Linked DNA regions of Homo sapiens: region 2 is linked to region 1. The links come from fine-mapping of genetic effects on gene expression. Tissue or cell type: whole blood. Region 1 holds a variant in brackets; the other region holds the start of a gene. All regions are shown on one strand. Distances are between the middles of the regions.

Region 1 (8,184 bases):
ACTATCAATGGTGAAACAATATTGGCTTAAACTGTTCTTTTATTGGAAGGCTCTTAGTAACTTCGAAGTCAAACTTCGAGACTTACCACTGAGATAAACTACTCAGTTGTGATGTAGATATCAAGGAACTTGAGTCTAACAGCGCTCACTAATAACTTAAGTCTGAGAATGATTTAGTCTAGGAAATAGGCGCTCTTTGCCATGTAGTCACTTTCAATAGTGGGCAGGAAAGGGGTGGGGCCACAGCTAGGTGCCACTGATTGTGGGCATGGTCAGCATGAATTACCAGCGTGCCTGCAGACAAACGCCTAAGAACCACTGTTTTGAGCTCCCACCCTTTTCTGCGGACTCTCTAACCTCTTCCTTTGTGTGTGAGCCCCACGTGCACCGAGCCTTCCCTGGCAAACAATGGAACTGACATTTCCTGGGCACCAGCTACTTGCCAGGGACTGCACACATCTTCTCTGAAAACCTCCTCACCACCTGTTCCAGGCAAGCAAGTCTGCTCCTAGTTTCTTCTGGCAAAGGTCATACCGGGCGTCTTGTTCGAGGCCATTAATTCTTTGTTAGAATTTACCAAAGGTCTCCCAACTGCTGCAATAGGACCTTTTTGTGCCTGCAATAAGATTTTGCTGTGGCCGGGCTCTTCCTAGTCAGGGCTTGCTAGTCCATTTTGCAGATTTATTTCCAGGGGTGATTGACATAGTTTCCGCTAGGCGCTCACTGCCACTGCCCTCCCCCACCCCATTTTTGAAACCTACGTGAATACAGCAGCTATTAGAGTAAGGAAACAACGTCTTCACAACTTTATAAGTGTCTTTGCAAAGACATTTATATCTCATATAAAGGGACATTTGACACTTCGTAAGGGTCATTTCGTTGTTGCTTTTGACCAAATTGACTGCCAAGCAATACAGAGAAATACAGACAAAGAGATTCAGGGTATAAAGCCACAAATTTAACAATATCATACACATTGAGTAAATTAGGAAATAAAAAATTAAACAGTAATTAAACATTGAGAGACTAGGACCTTAACATATTTAGTTACCATATTAACAGGCTGAGACTTCAGAAGCTATCCGATTTCTGAAATCCAGAAATACACTTATCAATCCTAGGTGAAAACAGGGATTGAACACTCTTAGTATGGGTAAAAGCATTACACAGATGCTTTAAGGTGCAACCACAAGATAGCTTTCATGATTAATTTTCATTATCATTATTAATGACTGATCAAGTCTGATCCTATAGGTAATCTAGGTCTAAGGTTAAATTTGCTACATCCATGTATCCAGATTGGGTGGCTTTTTCTAAGCAGCAGAAATGGCGCTTGGAAAAGAACAGGACGACTTGGAGTTTGGTACCAGTTGGTAGCAACGTAAGCTTTACTTGGTGTGAGGCTCTTCATCCATTTGTTCACACTCTTTTCATTCAGTGTGTTTTATCCCTTTTTTCCCTGCATTCCTAGGCCTGAATATATACAAATATGAACAAGACCCACAAGGACTGCTCATCACCCCAGTATTCCATTTACAACATCCTGAATGAACTCCCGACCAGGCCTATAATTCTCTCTTGCAGCCAAATATCCTGCTTACTCCTGGTATCTACCTGGTCAGCAGACCTCATGAGTTATCGCCCAGTGACAAAACCATCCCAAAGATGCACCAGTCCAGCACAAAGTATGACTGTCAATCTCACAAAAGATGTAGGGTTCTACGAGGATACTCAGAGTATAAGAATTACGCTAAGTGAAATAAGCCAAGCCCAGAAAGACACATACTTTATTATTTCATGTATCTGTGGAATCTAAAAGAGTCAAATTCATGGCAGCAGGGAGAGGGCTGAAGAAGGGGGAGATGTTGATCAAAGTTTCTATGTATACAAAGACCAAACCATCACATTATGCCTCATAAATATATACAATTATTATTTGCTAATTACAAGTAAAGCAATACAAGAAGAAAAAAAGGAATCATAAGTAAATCCATGACAAGTGAAAACGCAATGGAGAGAAGGGAATCAATGATTGAAGAAGAGAAAGGACAGTGGATTTACAACTGCTTCGAAAGAGTGATTTGACTGGCAAAGGACTGGGGAGAGGTCCTTTGGGAAATGGACAAAGCCCTCGAATGGTTAGGAAAGACAATCTCTTTATAAATGCAGGGCATAAGCTGAGCACAAGGTGAAGTTTGGCATGTACTGCCGTGGGATGTTGTAAAAATTATGTCAAAAGCAAAGCAATTCTTGGTTCATCTGTGTTCACTGTGAGACTAGCCTATTATTGGGGTTAAACTTATAAACAAACTTCTATTCATCATTTTTTTCTCCAAAATAAAGTGATCAAATTGTCCCACAGAACTGACGCTTATGTTTTTTTTTTTTTGAATAACCACAGAAATTGTTCCTTCCAGACTTTAAAACTTGAGAAAGTTACAATTGTCTTATCTGAGTTCCTTTCTCAAGAAGCCAACCATCAGGTCTCCCAGATAAAATCAAGGAGCTGAAACTTACCAGACCACTGCCTCTGGATAATGAGGAGCCAGACCCCTCATCCATCAGGATTGCCTAAAGGACCACCTGCTTCCTACTGACCAACTTCTCTTCCTTGCCCCGCTTTAATCCCTGTTTTTATTATTATTATTATTATTATTATTATACTTTAAGTTTTAAGGTACATGTGCACAATGTGCAGGTTAGTTACATATGTATACATGTGCCATGCTGGTGTGCTGCACCCATTAACTCGTCATTTAGCATTAGGTATATCTCCTAATGCTATCCCTCCCCCCTTCCCCCACCCCACAACAGTCCCCAGAGTGTGATGTTCCCCTTCCTGTGTCCATGTGTTCTCATTGTTCAATTCCCATCTATGAGTGAGAACATGCGGTGTTTGGTTTTTTGTCCTTGCGATAGTTTACTGAGAATGATGATTTCCAATTTCATCCATGTTTTCCCAAACACGGTTACATTTCCTCTCTGGTGCATCAACCCCTCATTTCAGAGATGGATTTGAGACTGACCTCCCATTTCCTTGGCTGCAGCAGCACCCGATTAAAGCCTTCTTCCCTGGCTTTTGTCTTGTCTCAGTGATTGGCTTTCTGTGCAGTGAACAGCAGGACCCAGACCAAACCCCTGGTGCTTCGGTAACAATTACATCTTAACCAAATACATATATTTTTTCAGTTTTGAGTCACACTTTGGTCTTCACTTTAAATTGATTCATGGTAAGTTGCTTTTTTGTGCTTCCAGTCTTCTTTTGGTAAGGGCTGTTGGTGGTCCCTGTTTTTTGGTTCATGATTTGGAGTACATGGATGGTCACAGGAGGGGAGGTAAGGCTTTGGGGTTTAATCTGGTGACTAAACACTAATAACACTTTATTACAAGAGCAAAAAGCAGAATAAAATAGTCTGGTGCTCTGCTTCAGAGTTTCTGATAAGGCCCTCAGCAGCATGGAACCTGGGGCAGGGGGCTCTCTGCCTAAGTCTCAGGCTGCGCTGCTTGCAGGTCACGTTCCACTTTTGTCCACTTACGCCAAGGCATGGTGGTGTCTGGACAGGTGATCAGTTTCCCAGGGTGGTTTATCTCAAAGAAACACGCTCACTGGGAGAGCAAACTGGGATGTCAGAAGACCAGAATGGGAAAGTTAATCACCCCTCTGTATTTGTTCTCAGAGTTTATTTTTATTGGGTGATTAACCGACACACCATGGCCTTTGCTCTGGCACCTGGGTCTCTGAGTCCAGCTCAGACCAAGCTGAGCATGGATATTGCCACTTTCAAGAAGTCAATAAATGAAGCCAGCTGCAGCGGGGACCACAGTGAGATAGATGGCTGAGCCTCGCATTATGACTTGAAGCTCAGTGAATGTGGTCTGGCCGGCTGCCAAGCAAGGAGGTACTTAGAGGCAGCTGTGCTTAGCTTAGGTGATGACGGGACCTCCCTCTCCAGTGGCATCCTAATAGACAACCGTCTATAGAGACTGCATTCGTGATGGAGGCCAGGTTACCGGGAGGGCTGCAGGGTCCCTGGGAGACAGAAGCATCTGGGTTTCACAAGGAGAGAGCTCACCCAGGAGCACGAGTCCAGTGTGCGCTCACGGATCATCATCCGGAGGCACCATCACCAAAACAGGTGATGCTGCTGGCTGTTCTGTGAAGGAGCTGGAGGGTTATTTCCATCACTGAGTGCTCAGAATCACACATTCCCAGCCCTGTGTA[C/T]TGATTTCCAGTGTTCATTCCATACATACGCTTTGACCACCTTCTATCTTCCCAGTATTCTGTTAGGGACTGGGGAGTTTGCAGTGATCAAGGTGGGGAGCTTCCTGCCCTTGGGATGCGTATCTTCACCAAGGCATTTACTATCTGATGTTGTAATTTTCACACAAGGTAGCGAGCTCCCAGGGATACACTTTGTCTTTCCCTCTTCATGTAGGCAGTGAGTGGCCTCATGTCTGGCCATACAGGCCTTGGTTAAAGATGGGTGAGTGAATGGGCAGAAAAGTCAATGTGTCAGAAGCAAGTGGAAGAGCAGCCTGGAATTCCAAGGAGTTGATATCCCCAGGGATTTCAAGGCTCTGTGATGACAAGTGCAGCTGAATCCCTGCAGGAAGCAGTTGGGTTTGGTGCCCCTGGTGAGGTCAGGGGTGTCAAGTACTGAGATTAGCAAGGGGGATGAGATGTATCCTGGGCCTGCAAGCCTCCCTCTGTATGAGGATGCCAGCTGTTTCTACGTGTGGGAACATCAGTTGCCAGGAAGAATGTGGCTCAGCTCTGCTATCATCTTTCTGGATGTAGGAGGTTCTACATTAGCACTAGTGTAGAAACAGAACCCTACTACAGTTTCCGGGTCCTCTATTCTGTTGCTCACAGAACAGGAGAGTGAGATTTAAAAAATGTACGTCATGTCCCTTTCAGGCTTCAAAACCTTTGTGGCTTTGGGGACTGATCACTGCTCACCTCCCACCATCAACTCACCCTGTTCCCCAGTCCAAAGCTAGCCAGGCTCTCCCATCGTCCCAGCCTTTGCATTAGCTGTTGGTTTCTCCCCCTCACCTCTCCCCTTGGCTGGTTCATTATCACTCTTCAGATCACACATCATCTCCCTCCTAACCAGCCCATCTAAGGTGGCCTTCTCCAGTTACTCTCCATCCCATTAAGCTGTTGACTCTCCCATGGGAAAGAGCTGTAAGCTGTAATCACACCGGTTGTGTGATCAGACATTCATTGGCTTGTTCATTGCCGGTCTTCCCACTAGAATGGAAACTCCACACTGTCTTGTTCACTGCTATCCTCAGGGCTAGTTAGGACCCGGCTCACAGTGTGAATTTTTCAATATTTTTTGAATAAATAAATAAACCAGGATGATTACCTTTAGGTTGGATGTATGAAGAATAGCTAGCCTGTCCAAAACATTTACTTTCAGCCTTGTTATTTAATCTGAAAAGCAATATTCACAACTGGCATTTATCGACTACCTGCTACCTGTCATGCAGCATTTAAATCTTCCACAAACCTTTGAGCTAGTTTATACACGAGAATTTTGCTCATTTTACATTTTCCTGTCTGAAGTCTAGAAAAAGAAAATGGATACTTTCTGAATAAATCAACCTCTTCTAAACTGACTTGCCAGAAGACGAGAAAAGAATCCAGCTGGAAAAAACCTAGGAAATAGCATTCTGCACATTGACCTTGGCAAAGAATTTATGACAAAGTCCCCAAAAGCAATTGCACCAAAAACAAAAATTGGCAAAGAAACTATCAACAGAATAAACAGACAACCTATAGAATGGAAAGAAATATTCACAAATTATGCTTCCAACAAAGGTCTAATATCCAGAATCTATAAGTAACTTTAACAACTCAACAAGCAAACAACTACCCCATTACAAAATGGTCAAAGACATGAACAGACACTTTGCAAAAGAACACATACGTGCGGTCAACAAACATATGAAGAAATGCTCCACGTCACTAATCCTCAGAGAAATGCAAATCAAAACCACAATGAGATACCATCTCACACCAGTCAGAATAGCTATTATTAAAAAGTCAAAAAATGACAGATGCTGCCCAGGTTACAGAGAAAAGGGAACTCTTATACACTGTTGGTGCGAATGTAAATCAGTTCAGCCCCTGTCCAAAGCAGTTTGGAGATTTCTCAAAGAACTTAGAACAGAACTACCATTTGACTCAGCAATCCTACTACTGGGTGTTTATCCAAAAGAAGATAAATTGTTTTGCCAAAAAGACACATGCACTTGTATGTTTATCACAGCACAATGCACAATGGCAAGCACAAGGAACCAATCCAGGTGCTCATCAATGGTGGAATGGATAAAGAAAATGCAGTGCGTGTATACCATGGAATACTATGCAGCTGTGAAAAAGGATGAAATTGTGTTCTTTGCAGCAACATGGATGCAGCTGGAGGCCATTAACCTAAGCGAATTAGCACAGGGACAGAAAACCAAATACTGCATGTTCTCAGTTCTAAGTGGGAGCTAAACATTGAGTACACACAGACACAAAGATGGGAGCAATAGACATTGGGGACTACTAGAAGGGGGAGCATGGAAGGGGTGTAAGGGTTGAAAACTATCGGGTACTATGCACACTGTCTGGGTGATGGGATCACTCATACCCCAAACTTCAGCAACACGCAATAGACCCAGGTAATAAACCTGCCCATGGACCCCCTGAATCTAAAAGCTCAAAAAAACCACAAACCAAAAAACGAAAACAAAACAAAAACAAACAAACAAAAAACCCAGGTGATCCTTTGTACCCAGTTCAATTGTATGAATTTTTTAAAAGAATACCACCGTATATTTTAGTGTGTTGAACTTTTCATCGAATTGTGATTTTAAAAAGTCACAGTTTAGCCCAGAAGGAGGTATCTCCAAGTTTGTCAGTTCCTAAAACAACATTCTAGAGGGAAACAAATGAAAATCTCTTGGAACTGTACATATTCTTTGACCCAGAAATTCTTCCTCTAATTATTTAGCTTAAAGAAATAGCTATAGGGAGCACATTCCAAAACTGGGGAATGCCAGGTTAATAACATCAAATGAGGTCCCCCTTTGCGCAAGAATTCTCAGAGCCTTTAATACTCAGATTTGCATTGTGAAGATCTGAGAGAGGGCCTTAGAATAATGCATAGCTCAGACTTATTTGGCTGAAATATTTAGCGACAATTATATTTTCTCCTTCAATGTTTACTATAGAAAAATAAAAAATCAATCAGGGAACTGTTGATCAAAAGTGATAATGGAATGCTACGTAGACATTAAAAGCCATGATGAACACAGCATGACAAGATGACAACACATACGAAGTAAATCTTTATAGTAGGTAGGTATGTGTATAGCACCGTGAGGGTCCACATGCAAACATGTGGCAGGCTCGCTGCCCCCTTCTCACAAGCACGGTAATGACTTGGCAATGGCCAGGTCAGCTTCAAAACCCCTCTTTGTATGAAGCCCTGTGTGCCAAACCCTTCTTTTTCACAGGGCTTGACATACAATCCCAAACAGATTTGCTGCTGCTGGCTGAGAAAATACCTTGGAAGGGAATGCTAGTGGCAGTTGCGGTAATAATTATGATCATGATGATGATAATAATAGAGTCACAGATAATATTTATTGAGCACTTGCTTTGTGCCAGGGAATTTCCAAGCACTTTACATGGGTCAGCTTATTTAAGTCTAACAATAACTTCATGTGGGTGGGATTACTGACCCATTATATAGATGAAGAAACAGAGGTGGTGAGGGACTAAGTAGCTGGGTCCAGGACACACAGCTAGTAAGTGATAGAGTTGTCCAACCATAGCGCCCATGCTCTTAACAGTGATGCCTCGCTGTCTGACCTGGGTCTTAGGAGTAGTGGTATCTGGCTAGTGGGATTTACATCTTTCTTAGTTTTGCCTATCTCAGTTGCTAAAATTTTTACCATGAGCCTATATTTGTTTTGCAAATAAAATTTTTTTGGCAATAAAAAGACTAGTAATACAAAGATGATTTCCTTTATATCTCTACATTTCCATTTTCTCTTCTTTGTGAAACCTTATTACTATAGATGGTATATTTACTATATATACATACACATATGTATAATATGCATGTCTTATCTATGATATGTAACAGTATATGATGTATATGCACATAAATAATATATCCATTT
Region 2 (8,184 bases), 75 kb before region 1:
GACTGGTGAGATGAGAAACTTAAAAAAATCATGTTTTTCAAATTTTCAAGTTTTTGTGTAAAAGCACTTTGTGGTGACAATCATATGGATCACCTTCCAGGTCATCAGTATTGGCCTCTAGGTTTAGCACTCCTGGCACTGCATTTTTGAGTGGCCAGAGATAAAGGTATTATCCCTGTCTTCTATAATCAATGATAACATTGACACTCTGCAAGAATTTAGATAAGAAACAGTTTAAGTAAAATAGTGTTTTTTAAAAACTTGAGTCTACTACAAGTCGTTGATCATATTCTAGCCAAGCAACTGGCATGGACTTAATATGGTCTCTTTTCCTTCTCTCTTTCTTTTCAAGTCACTAGCTCAAAGGAAAGACTGATTGAGTTTTAAAATCCTGCCAGATTTTTTATGGTAACCATTGTAGATGAACCACGTAGGTAGGGTCCTACTGAAGTATTAGAATCTCATGCAAAACTCTAACAAACGCCTCATTACAGAAGGCTATTCTGTTATTTTCTGTACTGTAAAAGTTCTGACACAAGACAGTGGCAGTGGTTACTTTTCATCGACTTTAGCATGTGATCTCAGGGACTCAGACATACGTCTAAGTTCTATTCTGAGTTTTGGCAACAGAGCAGTGACAGATATTTCTGAATGAACAATTTTTAGGTGTTTTCAGCCATTTGAAAAGTATTGCCAACACACTATTTGGTGTTAGCTCAACAGTCACGTTGTGCCAAGAATTAAAGAACTCTAAAGTCTACAAACATCTTACTTCACCAAGACTAACTATAATTGAAGGGTTTACTATTTGTTTAATAAAAAATCACACATCAACTTTTATCCAAACAGCAACTACTACAAAAGGAATGACAAGAAAAAAAATGACTTCACAGAAATACACTAAAAAATCTGACAATGTTATGCAAGAACCGCCAAAGTTTTAGTGTTTAATAATGAATAGCACAACTGACCAAGGTCCAAGATGTGAAGATACCATGTTCAAGAAACTGGGGGGAAATCACTCTACAAACTAACTATATACTAGGTGATAAGAATGCATACTTTATAATATAAAACCTGTCTACACATAGTAGTTAGCTGCAAAAAGCCATTCGATCTTCTCTTGGCTTGGAAAAATGCCAGATTCCAGTATAAATTATTAGCAACCTGTTGAAGAAGGAAAAATCATCAACATGTTTTTCATTATATGAGCACAAGTAAAAATGACATATAGACCTATCAACTACAAATCCCTTTCCACTCTCCTACTGAGTTAAACTTATTTTCTTCTGGCAATATTTTAGCAATAGATTTAACTGGAAATATCTTTAAAAGTTTCAGAGTCAGTTTCCTACTCCCACTCTTTTCTTTGAATGACCCCCATCACTAGCCAGTCTACCATCCTGAAATTCTTGTGGTAAGATAATCAGTCAGTTGATGGCAGTTTTGATTGCCACATAATATAAAAAGAGACCCACAGAAGCATCTGAGACTGGTAGGACATTTTTCCAAATTATCTCTGGATAAGAATAACGATGACATAACCCATAGAAAGCAGTTATGTGATTTACTCACACAGTGAATGAACCCCACCTACTGTGAAGATAAAAGCAAATTTTAGAGTCTGTCTTCAACATCCCAAATCTGTATTTCACAGTGACTTAAAATGTGGTCCACAGCAAGCCCAGAAAATAGGAAATTAGGCATGTTTTACTGTACATTCTGCTTAGTACTCTACGAATCTAAAAATACTCAGGAACCATTTTATTTTATTTTTTTGAGACAGAGTCTTGCTCTGTCTCCCAGGCTGGAGTGCAGTGGCATCATCACGACTCACTGCAAACTCTGCCTCCTGTCTCAGTCTGCCAAGTAGCTGGGATTACAGGCGTGCACCACCACACCCAGCTAATTTTTGTACAGACAGGGTTTCACCATGTTGGCCAGGTTGGTCTCGAGCTCCTCACATCAACTGATCTGCCCTCTGCCTGCCTTTGCCTCCCAAAGTGCTGGGATTACAGGCATGAGTCACCACGCACCAGTACCTTTTTTTTTTTTTTTTTTTTTTTGAGACAGAGTCTCACTCTGTCGCCCAGGCTGGAGTGCAGTGGCGTGACCTCGACTGCAACCTCCGCCTCCCTCAGCAACATTCATTTTTATAGAGAATTAAAATGTTATAAATGAAACAAGAGAAAAGTGAGTCTAAAACTTATTTTTCACACATACAGAGGAAAAGGATCACCATGCACTCTGCTGAGTGATTCTGTACATTTACCTATCTTGCTGTGTAGGTACTTTGAATTACTAGGCTTTCCTCTGACATCTGAAACTATTCAGAGGAAATTTAAATGAACTCCAGGGTAAAAGCTTAATGTGGCCACAATCTAGTTCACCTATGTCAAGTTACCAAGAAAGTCTCCAGAATTTAAGCCATTTAAGAAGGTGGTAATGTGGGTGACTTATCAGTTATTTCCATAAAAAAAAAAAAAAGCAATGGAAAATCTTCCAGTGACAGGCTTTATAGGCCAACAAAAAGACACCTTAATTATTAGCTGGAATGATAAAAACTCAGTGGTTATCTAATGTTAGCCAGTGGTCTTCACTAATAGTGACAGAAGTCTAATTAATAAAAACTGGGAAAATAAATTCGGTGTAAAGAATGAGTTTGGCATGAAAAATTTCAAAACATCAAGTCCACAGCAGGTAAACAATACAGTGATGCTTGCTGGGATCATGGCTGGGAACTGATCTACAGAATGTCTGACTACATACAAATTATACTTACAGGTTCTCTCTATTCTTTTAAGACAAAATAAAAAAAAAGACCGGGCACGGCGGCTCACACCTGTAATCCCAGCACTTTGAGAGGCTGAGGCGGGCAAATCACTCAAGGTCAGAATTCGAGACCAGCATGACCAACATGGAGAAACCCCGTCTCTACTAAAAATACAAAATTGGCTGGGTGTGGTGGCACAAGCCTGTAATCCCAGCTACTCGGGAGGCTGAGGCAGGACAATCGTTTGAACCCAGGAGGGCAAAGGTTGCAGGGAGCCGAGATCGTGCCATTGCACTCCAGCCTGGGCAACAAGAGCAAAACTCCGTGTCAAAAAAAAAAAAAAAAAAAAAAAGAAAAGAAAAGAAAAAAAAAATTGCCCCCTTCCTCACCTTCAACTCTTTTGCGTGGCAGGTATCTTGTTTTCACTTTCCAGTTCTTCCACCCCAGCCTGTGTCATGAGGTCCGCGATATTCTTTTCCAGATCATCAATGCGACTACTCATATCATCAAGTGCTGAAGTTAAAGACAACGCGTGCCAACATCTCATTGAGCCTTTTTCCTCCCGTCCCTGCAGACTACAGCCTTAAACACAACGACTTTAGGGAAACTGGTCTTCCAATTTTCTTTCGACACTGTTACACGCTGGTGGGTAAGAGTACAGGACTGTGGGGCATGGCTACCCCGCATCGGATTCCAGCCCTGACCCTTACTAGTGATGGAACCCCTAAACCTCAATTTATTCATTTGCTAAAGATGATAACACTACAACCCACTCATAAGGTCATGCTGAGCATCAAAAGACACACACAAAAGCGCTTAGTTCACAGTGCATGGTCCACCACACCAGCTATTAGGATTGGTAGACGTATGCTCCTTGAGCCAGGAGTCTAACTCAGCTTTGCCCCTAGCTCTCGGCGCAGTCCTTCTCAGAAACACAGTACAATCCAAGCTCAAATTCTACAAGTGAATGGCTGAAGCTAGCCTGAAAACTACTCATTTATCCCCACCACTGCCCGGCAAATAGGCTCCAAAGGCCCACAGGAGGCCGACTGCAGATAAAAAGGATATTTCTCCCAATGATCTGGTCAGACATGGTCTGAAATTTATCTTGCATCTGCTGCAGGAGTGTCTGCACCTAAGAAAAACCGAAACAAACAAACACGGTCCACATCGATCCTGAGACAACTTCCTGGGATCAGGACGCAAGCCCTGGTCCCGGGGTTCCAGCCCCATTTCTGCCTCTGGACAGCTGTGCGGCCTTCAGCAAGATCTTCCTTCTCTGGGCTTCCGTTTTCCAACCTGTCCAATTAGACTGCTGGGCTGGGGAGGCCGCTGCGACTCAAAGCTCAGGGTCTTTAGGTTGTTTCTGCCGGGCTGGGGCACCCGGGGGTGTGTGAGGAGTTGAAGGGCGGGGAGGGTGTCAGAGGTAGGCGGGAGGGACCCGGAGGGCGTTCGCGACAGATGAATGGGGCTACTGGAAGGGGTCGGGCTTGGGGGCGCCCGCGGGGAGACTGGCCCGCACCGAGCGCCCCGGGGGTCAAGGTGGCCGGGAGCCTCGGCCAGAGACGCTTCCAGAAACGGGGCCTCGGCAGACGCCACGCGCGGCCGCGGTGGGCGCGCCTCTGTCCAGCAGGGCTTGGCCCGGCGCCGCCCGGGAAGGCCGCGGCCTCCGGCCCTCACAGCCGTCCCTTACCACCGAGGTGAGGTCCTGCACGGTCTTGGGGTCAGTCTCGGCCATCTCCCCGATGCCCAGCTTGGCGGTGATGTCTCAGACCGTAACCTACACTTCCGTTTGTCCGCTCAGTCGCCCCGGGCCGCTGCTTCTCGCGACGAGACTGGCAGCTCGCGGGACCGCGGGGCATTATGGGAGTAGTAGTTTCTCCCGCACCGGAAGGGCCTCGAGGCCGCGCGCTTCCGTTCCAAGGAGCGGCCCCACCCCACTCTCCCCGCCTTCTTTCGCATAGCCCCTCCCCTCCCTCTATGCCCCGCCCCTCACGCAGCGCGCCGTCAGTGGGGTGGAAAGTGAGACCAACTCAGAAATGGAGCAATAGAGGCAGGGAGTGGTCTTGGCCTCTCTTCCAGGCTGTAGTCAGTCGAAAGACGGCTCTGGGGTTTCTTTGGCCTGTCGGGACGAACTTACAGAACTTTTGCCCTTCAACAAGCCCCACTGTACCCTTGTAACTGCCCCCAAGCCAAGGAACATGACCCACCCCTACCCGCCCCGGGAGCCCCATGGCTCCTGTCCTGTTCTGTCATCTCCACCCTATGAAGGTGGCCAGCGTCTGGAGTTTAGCCCAGTAGGTTCATTGTGCCCGTCAGGTTCATATGAGGGGATTCAGACAGGAAGCTGTCCATCATGCCTGGCTTCTTTCACTCCACGCAATGCCTGCTGTTGAGTGGGGAAGGCTTCCGGCATCAGGGTTAGACTGTGGGTTTGGGTGTTGAAGGAGGTGGGCACTGCTGATTTGGAACCTCAAGTTCCAACCCCACAGGTGGTCTTTAGGATTGGGTCTCATGGCAAGGGGATAGGAGAGTCCTTGACTGCGGGCCTGGCATGTTCTGGAAACTTTCACACATCTCATTTAAGGACTGTGCTATGTGAGGGGTCAGCTCCAGTTTGACTTTAGCTAGGGAGAGGCTGTAAGGTGTTAGAGCTGTTACGGGAAAGGGTCCTGATCCAGACCCCAAGAGAGGGGGTTCTTGGATCTCATGCAAGAAAGAATTCAGGGCGAGTCTGTAAAGTGAAAGCAAGTTTAAGAAAATGAAGGAATAAAAGAATGGTTACTCCATAGACAGAGCCCTGAGGGCTGCTGGTTGCTCATTTTTATAGTTATTTCTTGATTATATGCTAAACCAGGGGTGGGTGATTCATGCCTCCCCTTTTTAGACTATATAGCGTAACTTCTTGACGTTGCCATGGCATTTGTAAACTGTCATAGCGGTAATGGGAGTGTAGCAATGAAGACAAGCAGGGTTCACTCTTATTGCCATCTTGGTTTTGGTGGGTTTTGGCCGGCTTCTTTACCGCAAGCTGTTTTATCAGCAAGGTCTTTATGACCTGTACCTTGTGCTGACCTCCTATCCCATCCTGTGACTTAGAATCCTTTAACTGTCTGGGAATGCAGCCCAGTAGTTCTCAGCCTCAGTTTACCCAGCTCCTATTCGAGATGGAGTTGCTCTTGTTCAAACGCCTCTGCCAGACCCACCAGTGTCTCTAACAAACCCGGAATCCAGTTGGCCTTGAGGCATGAGACTTCAACTCCCTTTACCACCCCTTCCCCCTCACTCACACCTTTGCCCCTCACCCTTCACACCTCATCCTTTCCTATAGAGAGATCTTCCTTTCTGTGTAAGTATACACAACTTTTTTGTAATTGGCTGTTGTCAACTGGTATTTGGCTAGTGCTTTACCCGACTACTTGAAATAAAAATATCTCAGTGTTTTAAGTTAATCCTCAGAAGACCCTGTGATATAATTATCATAATTTTACATTTTTGAGAAAACAGATGCAGAGGCGTTAAGAAACTGGAACAAGGTCATCAAATTAAGGAAGTAAGAGACGCAGGACTTCCTGACTCTGCATCTTCTCCTTTTTTCTCACCATTCTAGAATTCTCTGAGTTTTTTGAGCTTAGAGCAGAGTTTCTCAAGAGCTGCAATACTGGCATTTGAGTCAAGTCGTTCTTTATTGTTGGTGGTGGAGGGGGCACCCTGTATATTGTAGGACGTTGGGCAGCATCTCTGACTTCTACCTACTAGATGCCAGTATCTCAGTTTTCTTAAAAGACTTTTTTTTTTTTTTTTTTTTTTTTGAGATGGAGTCTTGCTGTGTTGCCTAGGCTGGAGTGCAGTGGCACCATGTCGACTCACTGCAACCTCCGCCTCCCCGGTTCAAGCGATTCTCCTGCCTCAGCCTCCTGAGTAGCTGGGATTACAGGTGAGCACCACCATGCCCAGCTAATCGTAAAAGACTTTTCATAAAACTTCAGAACTCCTTAAAAACTAGTGAATAGCCAAGGTGAAGAAAGCCCTCAGGCTTCTGACTTTAGACCCCAATCCCTGGGACTCCCACACTCAGCAAAGAAAGCTGGGTGCCTGCACCCTGGATCTCTGAGCAAACCTGTCTTATGGCTGTGGGCAACTCAGGAACATGAATTAGCACGAGAATCTGGAGTTTTTCTTTCCTTTTCTGGTAAGACACTTGTGGTTTTTTTTTTTCAAATTCCAATTGGAAATTTGCTTTACATGAACAACAAACAAACTTGATACTCTTTTAGTGGAGGCATTATTTGTTCCTTTATTTTTTGCACTTAAACAGACAGGCAGTATGCTTTCTCTGTGTGGAGACCAAGGTCTGTTAAAGGGCTGCTTTTCACGGAAGCTTCACTAATTTATACTCATGGCTGACATACTCACCTTGTGGGGCTGACACACCGAACCTAACTGAATATTGTCCCATTAACAAAACTAATGTATTACGTGTAAGGCACCAGTAATTAACCTTTAAACTTCGGTTTTGAACAACTCTCATTTTTAACCTTTATTTAAGTGTCATAGTTGTCTTACCTCCTCTTGGCATTTTTTTTTTAAAGCTCTTCCTAGATTAATTGCATGTTGTAACTCCCTTTTTCCATTCAAGACAGTTTTGTTTTACGTGCGCTTATTATGGTACTTTTATAATTGCTTTTTGGTTCTCTGGGCCATTCTTTTGACATGCCTCCTTTCTTGGATCTGTACTATGATAGGTGGCTGGGCATGGTGGCTCATGCCTGTAATCCCAGCACTTTGGGAGGCTGAGGCAGGCAGATCACTTGAGACCAGGAGTTCAAGACCAGCCTCGCCAGTGTGGCGAAACCCCATCTCTACTAAAAATACAAAAATTAGCTGGGCTAGGTGGCGTGCACCTGTAATCCCAACTATTCAGGAGGCTGAGCCAGGAGAATCGCTTGACCTGGGGAGGCAGAGGTTGCAGTGAGCCGAGATCTATCCCCTGCACTCCATCCTGGGCAACAGATTGTGACTCTGTCTCAAAAAACAGTAATAATAAAATACACTATGGAAGGTGTTGGTCTGTCCATGTGACCACATGCAATGAGGTGCTTTGTGCGTTTGCCTTGTGTGAGCAGCGATGGAATGATCCTAGCGGGGCCTTGGAGGAACTGGAATGTTCTTTGCCTAGTTGCACCTGCGTCAGCTCTGTAGGCCCAGCCCTGGGGCCCAGCAGCTGCTCCCCTGGTTTGCTTTCCTCCCAGGTTGCCTCATGCTGCTGCTGAGCAACCTTCACCTGATGGGCGGTGCCACAGCAGGGTCAGTGAAGGGTGCCCCTTCCTTCTAGTGACCTGGGCTGCCCTAGCCCTGGCCCTTCAGTAGCCATTCCAAACCTTTCTGGTCCCCCCAAATCCAGGACTTTA

The links. PIP is the estimated chance that this variant, and not a neighbour inherited with it, causes the effect.
Region 2: HSBP1 starts here. The variant in region 1 is fine-mapped to the expression of HSBP1 in whole blood (INTERVAL, PIP above 0.99).

Annotation. Positions count from the first base shown.
Region 1 is chr16:83,729,206-83,737,389 of GRCh38, reverse strand. The region is part of intron 10 of CDH13 (cadherin 13); the gene reads right to left. The region is part of intron 1 of CEDORA (CDH13 antisense oligodendrocyte and neuron associated lncRNA); the gene reads left to right. Among named protein-coding and RNA genes, the nearest start is that of CEDORA, 40 kb to the left of the region's middle. The variant C/T (reference allele first, on the strand shown) is at 4,223.
Region 2 is chr16:83,804,404-83,812,587 of GRCh38, reverse strand. HSBP1 (heat shock factor binding protein 1) reads right to left here and starts at 4,610. Exons shown (of 4, transcript NM_001537.4): 1 at 4,467-4,610; 2 at 3,842-3,908; 3 at 3,163-3,283; 4 at 1-1,167. The coding sequence starts at 4,511. The coding sequence ends at 3,165. RefSeq lists silencers at 4,174-4,463, 4,481-4,657 and an enhancer at 4,315-4,816.